Regions from separate parts of the Homo sapiens genome. Here regions 1 and 2 are each reported to be linked to region 3. The links are microRNA targets in miRTarBase. Many come from high-throughput screens and were not tested one by one. Region 3 holds a microRNA gene; each other region holds the end of a gene's coding sequence.
What was found. Region 3 holds the annotated microRNA hsa-miR-4767 (CGCGGGCGCUCCUGGCCGCCGCC, at 1,907-1,929, shown strand). A microRNA usually pairs through its seed, bases 2 to 8, with sites in the 3' UTR of a target mRNA and lowers its output. Matches are read on the target gene's strand: a 7mer-m8 pairs with bases 2 to 8, a 7mer-A1 pairs with bases 2 to 7 and ends in A, and an 8mer does both.

Region 1: the mRNA of YIF1B is a reported target of hsa-miR-4767. Seed matches in the 3' UTR shown: 7mer-m8 at 3,302-3,308.
Region 2: miRTarBase lists CPLX1 as a target of hsa-miR-4767. Seed matches in the 3' UTR shown: 7mer-m8 at 629-635 and 7mer-A1 at 849-855.

The regions. Positions count from the first base shown.
Region 1 is chr19:38,302,041-38,306,123 of GRCh38, forward strand. It overlaps YIF1B (Yip1 interacting factor homolog B, membrane trafficking protein), which reads right to left. Exons shown (of 8, transcript NM_001039672.3): 8 at 1,518-3,467. The coding sequence ends at 3,312. C19orf33 (chromosome 19 open reading frame 33) reads left to right here and starts at 2,211. Exons shown (of 4, transcript NM_033520.3): 1 at 2,211-2,243; 2 at 2,335-2,450; 3 at 2,584-2,646; 4 at 2,805-2,966. The coding sequence starts at 2,222. The coding sequence ends at 2,924. RefSeq lists enhancers at 1,333-2,070, 2,071-2,808, 2,809-3,546.
Region 2 is chr4:782,914-786,996 of GRCh38, reverse strand. It overlaps CPLX1 (complexin 1), which reads left to right. Exons shown (of 4, transcript NM_006651.4): 4 at 299-2,040. The coding sequence ends at 496. Among named protein-coding and RNA genes, the nearest start is that of PCGF3-AS1, 3.1 kb to the right of the region's middle. RefSeq lists enhancers at 1,015-1,886, 3,881-4,083.
Region 3 is chrX:7,145,963-7,150,125 of GRCh38, forward strand. It overlaps MIR4767 (microRNA 4767), which reads left to right and starts at 1,898; the gene lies at 1,898-1,975. PUDP (pseudouridine 5'-phosphatase) reads right to left here and starts at 2,191. Exons shown (of 4, transcript NM_012080.5): 1 at 2,091-2,191. The coding sequence starts at 2,151. It overlaps STS (steroid sulfatase), which reads left to right and starts at 1,750. Exons shown (of 11, transcript NM_001320752.2): 1 at 1,750-2,121. RefSeq lists a silencer at 1,711-2,430 and an enhancer at 2,621-2,670.

The DNA.
Region 1 (4,083 bases), not on the chromosome of region 3:
TCTGTACCCCTAGCTTTTTTTTTTTTTTTTTTTTTTTTTGAGATGGATTCTTGCTCTGTCGCCCAGGCTGGAGTGCAGCAGTGTGATCTTGGCTCACTGCAACCTCCACCCCCCGGGTTCAAGCAATTCTCCTGCCTCAGCCTCCCAAGTAGCTGGGATTACAGGCGTACGCCACCATGCCTGGCTAATTTTTGTATTTTTTTTAGTAGAGACGGGGTTTGACCATGTTGGCTAGGCTGGTCTCAAACTCCTAACCTCAGGTGATCCGCCTGCCTCAGCCTCCCAAAGTGCTGGGAATTACAGGTGTGAGCCACTGTGCTCAGCCTGTGTGTTTTGAGACAGGGTCTTGCTTCGTCACCCAGGCTGGAGTGCAGTGGCTCAATCACAGCTTACTGCAGCCTGGACTTCCCAGGCTCAAGTGATCCTCCCGCCTCAGCCTCTCAAGTAGCTGGAACTACAGGCGAGTGCCACCATGCCTGGCTAAGTTTTAATTTTATGTAGAGATGGTCTCAGTATGTTGCCCAGGCTGATTTCAAACTCTTGGGCCCAAGTGATCCTCCTGCCTTGCTTCCCTCCCAAAGTGCTAGGATTACAGGCATGAACCACTTCACCTGGCCCATGCTATATGTTTGCCCCTCGTCTTCTTACCTACTCCCTCAGTTTTCTCATCTGTGAAGCAGGGGTTGGAACAGTAGGGGTTGAATGTTTGTGTCTTCCCCAAACTCCTGTGCTGAAGCTGAGTGATGGTATTTGGAGGTAGGACCTCTGGGAGGTCATCAGGTGATGTGGGTGGAGCCCTTATTAATGGGATTTGTGCCCTTATAGAAAGGGACACAACATGAGATGATCTTGCTCTGGGCCATGCCGGGAGGAAGGGAGAAGGTGGCTGTCAACGAGCCAGGAAGCGGCACTCCTGACACTGGATCTACCAACACCCCTATCTCAGACTTCCAGCCTCCAGGACCGTGAGAACTGTTTCCTGTTGAAGCCACCCTCTCTATATTTGTTACAGCAGCCCACACTGATTAAGACACTTTTTTTTTTTTTTTTTTTTTTTTTTTTTTTGAGATGGAGCCTCGCTCCATCACCCAGGCTGGAGTGCAATGGCGCAATCTCGGCTCACTGCAACCTCTGCCTCCCGGGTTCAAGTGATTATCCTGGGTCAGCCTCCCAAGTAGCTGGGATTGCAGGCACCTGCCACCATGGCTGGCTAAATTTTGTATTTTTAGTAGAGACAGGGTTTCACCATGTTGGCCAGGCTGGTCTCCAACTCCTGACCTCAGGTGATCCACCTGCCTCGGCCTCCCAAAGTGCTGGGCGTGAGCCACCATGCCCGGCCTGACACTTATCTTTTATATCTATATATTTTTTTCTTTGTTGAGACGGAGTCTCACTGTGTCGCCCAGGCTGGAGTGCAGTGGTGTGATCTTGGCTCACCGAAACCTCTGCCTCCCAGGTTCAAGTGATTCTCGTGCCTCAGCCTCCGGAGCAGCTGGGATTACAGGCGTGAGCCACCATGACTGGCCTAAAACACCTACCTTTTATTTTTTAAAAAACCAACACATTATCAGTACTTCATGCCAGACACCATTCTAGGAAATTAACTCCTCTGACTTTCACATCAATCCCATGGGTAGCTGTTATTTACAGATGAGGAAACTGAGGCACAGAGGTAAAACAACTTTGCTGAGGTCACCTTGCTGCTAAGTGACACAGCTGGCATCTAGTGCAGCAGGCTGGCTCCAAGTCTATGCCCCTCACCCCTCAGACGCTGCTCACCAAGCCGGAGGGGCTGTGGGAGCGAGTTAGAACACGGGACGCCCCTGGCAGCAGCGCCCTGCGTGTTAAAGCGCCGCGGAGGAAGCTGTATTGTCGCGGTACGCAGGAAGGCAGGGGCAGCACCTCCCTCTTCAAGAACGAGCATCTGAGCTTTTGGGGGAAACCTGTAGCTCCCCGAATGCCATCCACAGAGCCCCCCTCAGTCGGCCTCCCCTGAGGCACCAAGGCTGGCGGAAGCAGTCACCTGTCCATCTCCCCCACTTCTCACAGAGGAAATCCTGGGTGGTGCCGGGCAATGAGTCAGGGCTGAGGACCAGGACAGAGGTTGGGTGGGGCGTCTCAGCATTCCTCCAACGGGCAGGTCTCAGCGCTCCTCCCCCTGCTCCGCTCCTCTGCAGGGCCCAGGCGCCCTTGGCCTTAGGACCCAACTTCTCTTACCGCCATGGAGTTCGACCTGGGAGCAGGTGAGCTCCTGGGGAGTGTGGACTGGAGGTGCAGGGGGCCGGACTCAAGCCCAGAAGCTGCCTGCACCAACCACCCAACTTCTCTCCACAGCCCTGGAGCCCACCTCCCAGAAGCCCGGTGTGGGGGCGGGCCACGGGGGAGATCCCAAGCTCAGTCCCCACAAAGTTCAGGGCCGGTCGGAGGCAGGGGCAGGTCCGGGTCCAAAGGTAAGTCGCCTCATCACCGGCTGCGGAGGGGCGGGAAGGCTGGGGTTGCCCCTGACCCCAGGGTCCTGCCTTAGGCCTCCAACTTCAGGGGGCTGGGTAAGGGGCGCCGCCTCACTGCCGCACCTCCATCCAGCAAGGACACCACAGCTCTTCCGACTCCAGCAGCAGCTCCAGCGATTCGGACACGGATGTGAAGGTAAGGGGCTCTCGCCAGCGTCCCCAAGCACGTGCCCTGCACCCCAGAGAGGCGTCCCCGCACTGGGGCTGGCGGGGAGGGTGCGGGGAGTGGTCCCCCTGTCTCGCTTCCAGCCCAGAACCATCTCTTCTCTCCCATCCCTGCCCTCGGCCCCACAGTCCCACGCTGCTGGCTCCAAGCAGCACGAGAGCATCCCGGGCAAGGCCAAGAAGCCCAAAGTGAAGAAGAAGGAGAAGGGCAAGAAGGAGAAGGGCAAGAAGAAGGAGGCTCCCCACTGAAGGGCCCTGGACAGGGCTCATTAAACCTTCCTCTCTGCCTTCTGCGACTGGTCAGCGTGGTGCCTACTCTGGCCCGTCCCCAGCTCCCTGCCCCCTGCCCAGCGCTGGGCCCGCCCATTCGTGCGCGAGGCCAAGGAGAGGCTGTCCACGCCATGCCCATCAGGGTTTATTGTTTCTGTAACAGCGGCCACGCCCTGGGGCGGTGGCCTGTGCAGCTGGAGATCTCTCAGCACCTTGGGTTGGGGGCGGGGCTGGGCGGGACATGGGATGGAGGCGGTGCCTGTGGCCAGACAGGGTGGACCTTGGGGCCTGCAGGCAGGAGATGAGTTCGGCGGCCACAGTGGCCCCCAGCAGCAGCAGCAGCAGCGGGAGGTTCAGCGGGCGCGCTCACCGCACCAGGTGGAAGGTGAGCCAGTACATGAGCATAGGCTGCGCCGCCGCCACCGCCATGGTCAGGTACATGCGCAGCTGGTTCCGGGCCCCACGCACCGGGACCCCCTCAGCTGCTGCGTCTGCCAAGATCTTCAGCCGCAGCGTCCGGATCTGGGTGGGAAAGAGAGAGAGGAACCAAGGGATTTACCCTTGAGCCCTCTGGGCCAGAGTGAGAGCCCGGACATACTTCCAGCCTCTGCCTAGAAGCCCCAGGCAGCTGGGGACAAGTCCCTGGCCCTCTGCAGCCTCAGGTTTCTGCTCCCGGGGCCTCAGTTTCCCCAAACCTCCTAACATGGTGAGGATTTGCTTCTCCCCGGGCCCTGTGGGCAAAATCTGAGAAGGTTCCATACTCAAATGCCAGGCAAGGTCTTGGAGCGGGTGAAGGGGGACTTCCCGGTGGACACCCGGCCTGAGGGGGTGGGAGACGTGGCCCAGGATGCTGCCCCCCCTTATGCTGGCCACACGGCAATTTCTGAAGACACGCCAGAAATGCTATCTTTATTTTTATTAAAGGACAGGGTCTCTGGCCTGGTGCGTTGGCTCACGCCTGTAATCCCAGCACTTTGGGAAGCCAAGGCGGGCGGATCACGAGGTCAGGAGATTGAGACCATCCTGGCCAACACGATGAAACCCCGTCTCTACTAAAAATACAAAAATTAGCTGGGCGTGGTGGTGAGTGCCTGTAGTCCCTGCTACTCAGGAGGCTGAGGCAGGAGACTTGCTCCTG
Region 2 (4,083 bases), not on the chromosome of region 3:
GGGTTTGGAGCCAGAGGTGGGGCCACAGCCCTCTCTCCTCTCAAGGAAGATGGGAGCCTCCCCCTCCCTGCTCCCCCCCATGTCAGCTCCTGGCCCCCATTCTCCGTGGGGGCTTCCCATTCCTCCAGGGACCCCCCGGGGTGGGGTCTCTTCTCCTTCTGGGGTCCTTGTGTGCCTGGTGGGGTAGGGGGCCGCACCCACGCCTTCGGGGGTTCCTGGGCCAGTCCCTGGCGCAGGGAGGCTGCGGCCCGCCCGGGAGCCGCCGGGACCCCCGCCCTGACCCCCGCCTCCCCCGCAGTACGGCATCAAGAAGAAGGAGGAGCGCGAGGCCGAGGCCCAGGCCGCCATGGAGGCCAACTCCGAGGGGAGCTTGACGCGGCCCAAGAAGGCCATCCCGCCGGGCTGCGGGGACGAGGTGGAGGAGGAGGACGAGAGCATCCTGGACACCGTCATCAAGTACCTGCCCGGGCCGCTGCAGGACATGCTCAAGAAGTAGCCGCGCGCGGGACAGCGGCCCCGCGGAGCCCCCGCCCCTCCCCCTACAGATCCTCCGCGGAGGCCCCTGAGGGACGAGCAGAGCGCAGCCCCCACGCCGATATAAGCCATAGCCCCAGGCCCGCCCTGCCCGCGCCCGCCGCCTCCCTCACCCGGCAAGGGGCGCGCGCCCCCAGGACCCCCCCAGTCCGCCCCGTGCTCCTCTGCCCGCGGGTGGCTGGAGCCCCATCGCCTGGGACGCCCCTTTCTCTTGCTGTTTACCGCCCACCCAGCAGCGCCCGAGGCCAGGGCCGCCGAAGGGCAGCCCCGCGACCACCCCTGTGCGCGCGTTCGCGGCGGTGGGCGCCTGTCGGGCCCGCACTCAGGAGCACAGCCATAGCAGACGGGGGGCTGCGGGCGGGGCGAGGGCGGCGGGGCCTGGGTCCCCCTCCTGCACGCGGACTCCGGGGTTCGGATCGCTCCGCCGTGAGTATTTGCGTCCGCACGCGGCCGCTCTCCGCCCCCCGGCCTGGCCCCCTCGCGCCCCTGTCCATCCGTCTCTGTCCGCGTCCTTTCCTCTCCTCTCTGGAAGGTTTTGCTTCTTACGAACGCCACGGCCGTGTTCACTTCTAAACTAAAGGAAACAAAGCAATAGGTTTGGGGGACGCCCAGCCCCCACCCCCGTCACCCCGCTCTTCCCAAGTCCTCGCCCCCCGCCCGGCCTCCTAGCCTCTCCGCCCACGCGGCTGCTGCTTCTCCCTGGGGAGGACCCCTGCCCTCGGCCATTGAACACTGCACCCTCCACAGGAGCCGCAGAGGCCCGAGGCACCGGACGCTGGAGACCCTGCGCCCCTGCCCAGCACCTCCTCCGTGGGCAGCTCCTCGGGTGGGGCCTGCGGGGTTCCCTGCGCGCAGCTGGCGCGTGTGTGGCCTAATCCACCTGGTGGCCCTGCGGGGCGGCATCCGAGCCCCTGTTTCTCCTCCATTCATGTTTAATTTGCATCACAATTTGTTGAATCTCAGGTAAATGAGGTCTTTGCATTTAATGAGTTTTATCTTGACAGGCGCCGCCTCGCCCCCGGGCCCTTTCGTCCACATCAAAAATGCATCAAGTCTCCACGTGTTTCGGGCCAGGGCGTGGCTTGGCATTGACCTTCATGACCTTACATAGCTTTAGAGAAGCCATAACGTTAGACTGCAATACTAACGACCGACGCCCCTCCGGGCAGAGACCACCGCGCCCCTCTGCGCCCCAGCGACGCGGCCCGCGGGGACGTCGCTGTCCGTCCTGCTCGCCCTGTGCCCTCTCACTGACTTCTCCCGGGTCGTGTCTTTTAAAAACTCCTGTTTTCACACCTTACAAAGCCAGCTCTGAGCAGACAGGGCGTCCTCTCGTAGAACCTGCGCACCCCGTTCCCAGCGCATGGCGCCCCGGGCCGCGAGCTTAGCTTAGACCGTGGTGTCCTCTGTCCGTCTGTCCTGCGCCTGCGCCTCCTCCTGCATGTCGGGGCCCCTGCGTGTGTTCTCTCCGGATGGAATCACAGCCAATAAACACCAGTGATTTCACACCGTGTGGCCATTCCTTCCAGAGGTCCATTTCGCCAGCCGGAGGACCGGGGCTTTCCCCCGCGCATGTTCTCTCCACGGCGGCTGCAGGGCCTCCCACCATTCTCACTCAGCTCCATCCAGTCAGACCCATTTTCCCTAGGCCGTCCAGCCAGCGCAACCTCCATCTAAACACAAACCTGCGCCTTCAGGGTCTCCCGCCCCCCAGGGTGGTTCTTCCACCCGCAAAGCATCTGCCCTCTGCTCTCCCTCCCACCTAGGACCCCCGACCACAGGCCTGTCCCTCTCCTCAGCTCCACCGGGCCCAGGGCCCCAGGTCACCCTGTGCTGCCCTTACCTCGGCCCACCCAGGAATTCCTGCCCCCCAGCACCCCCGTGGGACTGTCCCTCCTCCTGAGTCCTGGACCCGGATCCCTGCAGGGAAATGTCTGCCAACCTGGGCTGAGGCCAGAAGAGGTTCCTGACCCCAACCCAGAGAACAGCCCCTCTGCCTGGTTGCTGGCGGTCCCGCCCACACTCAATCCGCTGGATGCGCAGCCCACGCCTAGCTGCTGCCTGCCACTTGCTTCCCCAGAAAGTCCTTGTTTGACCTCCAAGTTTGGAAGCTGTTAAAAGATGATTCTGGCCAGGTGCGGTGGTTCAGGCCAGGTGCGGTGGTTCAGGCCGGGCGCGGTGGCTCACGCCTGTCATCCCAGCACTTTGGGAGGACGAGGTGAGCGGATCACGAGGTCAGGAGATGGAGACTATTCTGGCTAACAAGGTGAAACCCCATTAATACTAAAACTACAAAAAAAAAAAAAAAAAAGCTGGGTGAGGTGGCAAGCAACTGTAGTCCTAGCTACTCGGGAGGCTGAGGCAGGAGAATCGCCTTGAACCTGGGAGTCAGAGGTTGCAGTGAGCCGAGATGACACCACTGCACTCCAGCCTGGGCGACAGAGCGAGACTCCCTCTCAAAAAAAAAAAAAGAAAAAAGAAAAGAAAAGATGGTCCCGTGACACTTGTTACAGCTGAGTGAGGAAGGCTTTATTCAGGACCAGCACTACAGGTACAGGGACCATGCAACAGGGCTTGCCATGGGTGCCAAGGAGCAGGGTGGGCTCAGTGGATGGAAAATGACTGAGGAACATCAGGGGTTGGGGGATTCTGATGAAACCCATCTAACTGGATTCTAGCTGGAGACAGGCAGGGCAATCAGACAGACCCATAGGGTGGTGAAGCATGAGGACCCCAATCAGATCTCCAGGATGAAGGTTTGTTGCTAAACTGACTTAGCCAGATTCTTTGCTAAAACTGCATTTTACAAGGAAGTGGGCCAATGGGCCTACCAGAAGATTCAGGAAGTTAACTAAAGTTTGACCACACAAAAAATCTTTGTCAGGAGCCCTCTCTAGGGAGCAGCATGTCTGGGTCTCCTGTAACCTTCCTGATGCTGCTGGCTGGGAATGCCCCAGGGAGCTGCCCAGTCCCAGGGCAGGAGGGCCCCATGTGCCCTGACCCCAGGCCGGGCCCTCCTGGATGCCAGGTGGGAGCTGGGAGGGAACGTGCTCTCCTCCAAGCCCAGGGAAGGGTGTATCCAGCTCCTCCTCCTGCTGCCTCTGGGGAAGTGTGCACCCCAGGCACCACCAAATTGCCCAGGGTGATCTCTCCTCTGCCAGCTGGCCCCCCTTCCTCCTGGAACAGAAACTCAGTGTCTTTGCACCCACCCCTGTGTCCGTGGCTGCTGCCAGCTGCCCCTCAACAGGGCACCCCAACATCCAGCCACTGCTCAGCCTCCATCCTCCCCCAGCCTCCCATTTCCCATCCACAGCCTGGTCTGGACCCCCTTGCAAGCCTAAGCAGCGACTTGGACGTGCCAGGTCACGACCCAGGCAGCTTTCCCTTGGAGTCTTTTTTTTTTGAGACAGAGTCTCTCTCTGTCCCCCAGGATGGAGTGCAGTGGTGCGATCTCGGCTCACTGCAAGCTCCGCTCCCAAGTTCACACCATTCTCCTGCCTCAGCCTCCCGAGTAGCTGGGACTACAGGCACCCGCCACCACGCCCGGCT
Region 3 (4,163 bases):
TAATCTGGTAGATTAAATTAAAGTGGCACATCTTGGAAAGCTGTGTTTTATATTTACACATTTGGTGAAAGAATGGGATAAACAAAGGTATATTTCCAAGAAAGTTTTGCAAGGCCTTACCACCTCAAAGAAGAGGTAGGGCAGGAAAGGAGGAAATGGGCAGAAAATGAGGGGGGGGAATAAAAAGAAGCAGGGCTTATTTTTCCAAATAGCACTAATTCTTGGTTATCTGACTAGATCAGAGGATTGGGTAACAATGTGAGGTCAATGCTTGTAATGCCATTTAAGTCACATTCATCACTTCAGGGCATGGCTATGTGTGAATCTAGAATCAGAATTAGGCACCAAGCTCATTTAGAAGTTTAATAAATTTAATTTTAATGAGACATCTTGTTTGGTATTAAAATTCATGAGACTCCCAGAACAGGTTCTCTGGACCTTTATTAGAGGATAAGAAATTTATTTGACAATTTAACTTTTTGACCACCGGAGTAGGAAAATTCATGTCTACAAACTATACCTATGTATCCCACAAGCTTTCTGAAATTGAGTCATTTCAAATTTAGTAGCTGCATACACCGTTGGCTCCAATTAGTGACCTCTACGGGGATTTTTTTTTTCCTTTGGAATTCATCAGTTTACACCTCTGTGTTCATAAAATGAAGAGAATGGTTTCTGCATGCCTTTTTAAAAGGAAACACTGCTAGGGAATTACCCAGCAATATGATGAGCAGAAACAAGGTCACATTCACAATTTAAGATGAGCTCAACATCATTTATATTTAGAACTGGATCAATCCAGAATCGTTTCTCAGCTTGGCTTATTAGCTGTGTGACCTTGGGCAAGTAGCTTTACCTCTCTGAGCTGCAGGGTTTTTTTTTTTTTTTTTTTTTTAATTAGTGACATGCAAATACTTCCTCCTAACTTGCAGGGTTTTGAAATGAAGGAATGATATACGTAACCAAGCAGGTCAGCTGTCTACAAAGAGTATGCAGACATGTTTATAGATATATGAAGCCTCCTGGTGATTATGTGTCATAGTGTTAACTGTGTCAAGGCTTTCGGTAGAGCTCAGCATAGTTCTGTCTTGAGTTAAAAACAGGGTTTTATTCTTTGAATTCTACTTGAATTCCTCTTGGCTGGTGAAGTTCACATGTGCTAAGACTGACTACCTTAGTACACTGCCAAGGGTTTCTTAATGCCTCGGATTGATAGAGCAGCTGTTCTCAAACGTTCACGCGCTTAAAATGCAGATTCTGATTGGGCAGGGGTAGGGTGGGGCCCCAGCTTCTACATTTACAAGTAGCCCACAGGTGATGTCCCCGGTGCTGGTCACCCTAGGCAGCCAGGCCACTTGACGGACCTTCTGTGCCTCTACACTGTTGACGGCGCGGGATAATTCCTTATGGTTGCATAGGGCACTCCTGTGCACTGCGGGAAGTTTAACAGTATCACTGGTCTGGACTCCACTAGATGCCAGTGACCCCATCACTCCTCGCCAGCTGTGACAGCCAAAATGTCTCCTGACATCGCCATTGCCAGATGCCCTCAGGGCTGCAAAACCGCCAGGTAGAGAACCGCTACCATGCAGGATGCTACCATCAAAGTGCGCCCACAGCAGCAACCTTGGAGCAGGCAGGCAAGTATCCTCCAGGCTACTTTGCAGACGGGGAAGCTGAGGCTGGGCACCGCTCAAGGTCGCACGCATGCGTAACCGAAAAGAGAGCGCGGAGGTCCCGCCGCGCCTCGCTCTGAGGAGAGGACGCGGAGCCGCGCGCCCGCCCGGTGGACCCCAGGGACTGCTCCCACGTGCTCCGGCCCCACGCGCGGGCCGCCGACCGGAAGCGGGTGCTGGGGCCGCGTAGACGCCGCGGCCACGCGCGCCCGCCAGCCCGGACATGGGCCCGCGGGCGCTCCTGGCCGCCGCCCGACTTCGGGGCCAGCCGGGGGCAGAGCGCGCGGGAGCCCGAGCGTCCCTGCATGAACACCGCCCCGCCGCGGCCCCCAGGCCGTGACGTACCCCGCGCCGACCGTCCCCACGCCCACACAAGACCGCCCTTACTGGAGGCGGCGGCTGCACACTACCCACCCAGAAGAAGTCCGTCCATGTCAAAGATGAGGTGGGTGACGGGCTGCGGGGGCGCCGCCATGGTGGCGCCTTCTGGGTCTGGGTGGGGGCGAGGAGGAAGTGCGCGCGCACCCGCCCGCCCCGCGCACGCGCACTGAGGACCTTCTCGCGCGCCCGGGGTCGCTCTGCGCACGCGCCTTCCGCGGCCCCTCGCCCGGCTCCGAGCCCGCGCGTCCTGGGCTGCCTAGTGGCGCTCCGCGCACGCGCACCTTGGGCTTTCGCCGCAGCTGTAGCTGCAGACCCGGGATGCGGCGCGGGCCGGCGCTGTATGTTTACCCGCATCAATTCCTCCTCACTTCACACCCGGAATCGGGCCAAGCTACTCAGCCAGCGGCCGCGCAGAGCCGAGGCCCTCGTCTGGGGACAAATTCAGTGCTTGAGTTTGGATCAGGGGTGTGAATGAGGAAGGAGGGACAGTACAAGGGGCTGTAGAGTGGGGAAAGGGGATTGAAGATGCTCAGGGTGGTATCACTTCTAGCCATCAGGTTGCAGACAAATGGCCTTGGTCAGGAGGTCCCTGGGTGGGTTCGCCCGAGCCCCCAGTCCCTGGACCGTGGGTGGGTTTTTCTCAGTTTCGCTTGCCCGCCTCCTTGCGGTCCTGGACCGCGACTTGAACCGGCAGCCGCGCATGCGCAGTGTGCGGAGAGGCTGCACAACCTCCGTGCCTGCATCTCTGAGCATCCCAGGCTGGTGCATTGTCCCAGAGCAAAGCCAAGCTGCTCAAGGAGGATGCTGAAATAATACTAACAGTCAACATGTCTTGCTGGTTGTGCCTTCTTAGGTATCATCTGTCTTTTGGGCTGCTCTGAGTTTTCTTTCTTTTTTAACTTTTCAAATGCCACCTAAACAGCTTTCTTTTTTTTTTTTCCCGTTTGCCATCGTCAAAAAAATACTTTTTTGTCCCTGTTTCTATTTCGTGTTCGTTTATGTGGTATATTCACGTTTAAGGAAAAGGATTGGACCTTTTGAGAAGCGGAAATAGGAGAATTTCAAGACTTTAAAAACGTGAGGGTGTGCTGGGCGCAGTGGCCCACACCTGTAATCCCAGTACTTAGGGAGGCAGAAGTGGGAGTTGGGGGAATAGTTTGAGCCCAGAAGTTTAAGAACTGCCTGGGCAATATAGCGAGACCCTGTTCTCCACAAAAGGGGAAAAAGACAAAAAAAAAAAGGTGTAAACATGAGAGTGTATTTCTAGTTTAGTGCAGACATAGTGGACAGGGGCATGCCTGGATTCAGCAAGAATTATTATCTATGATAGACAAAGTGCACCTGTGTCTGTTTCCTCCTGGGTAAAATGGAGGTGATAAAGGAGGTGAGGCAGGCCAAGCCCTTAGTACCAGTGCATAATATATAGTCAATAAAATTATGTGTTCTTAGAGGTGGTACTATAAGAGAGCTTCCCCCATTTAATGCAATCGTGATTTCCCTTTGAGGACACGGGATTTCAGAGAAGGCAATTTATGAGCAAATTAGGTAGGGACTTGCGCCTCAAATACAGTCGTTCGTGGTTTCTGTATTAGTTTACTACAGCTGCCATAGTAATATACCACAGACTAAGTAACCTAAACAGCAGATGTGTATTGTGTCACAGATCTGGAGGCCAGAAGTCCTAGATCAAGATGTCAGCAGTCTTAATTCCTTCTGAGGGCTGTGAGGAAAGGACCTATTCCAGGTCTTTCTCCTCAGCTTGAACCTGCTTTCCTTTCCCTGTATCTTGTCCTATCGTCTTCCCTCTGTGTGTGTCTCTGTGTCCAAATTTTCTCCTTTTATAAGAACACGATTCTTATTGGACTAAGGACCACCCTAATAACTACATTTTAATTTGATTACCTCTGACAAAATCCTGTTTCCAAATAAGGTCACATTCTGAGGTAGCGGGGATGAGGACTCCAACATATATTTTTGGGAACACAATTCCATAATAGATGCATTGCACACACATAGCTGTGGTACCTACAGTAAGTATGACAGTATTTCCCACCTGGAGTCTGTAGAATTCTCCCTCCCAGTTTCCTTCCATTCTCTGGAAACAAA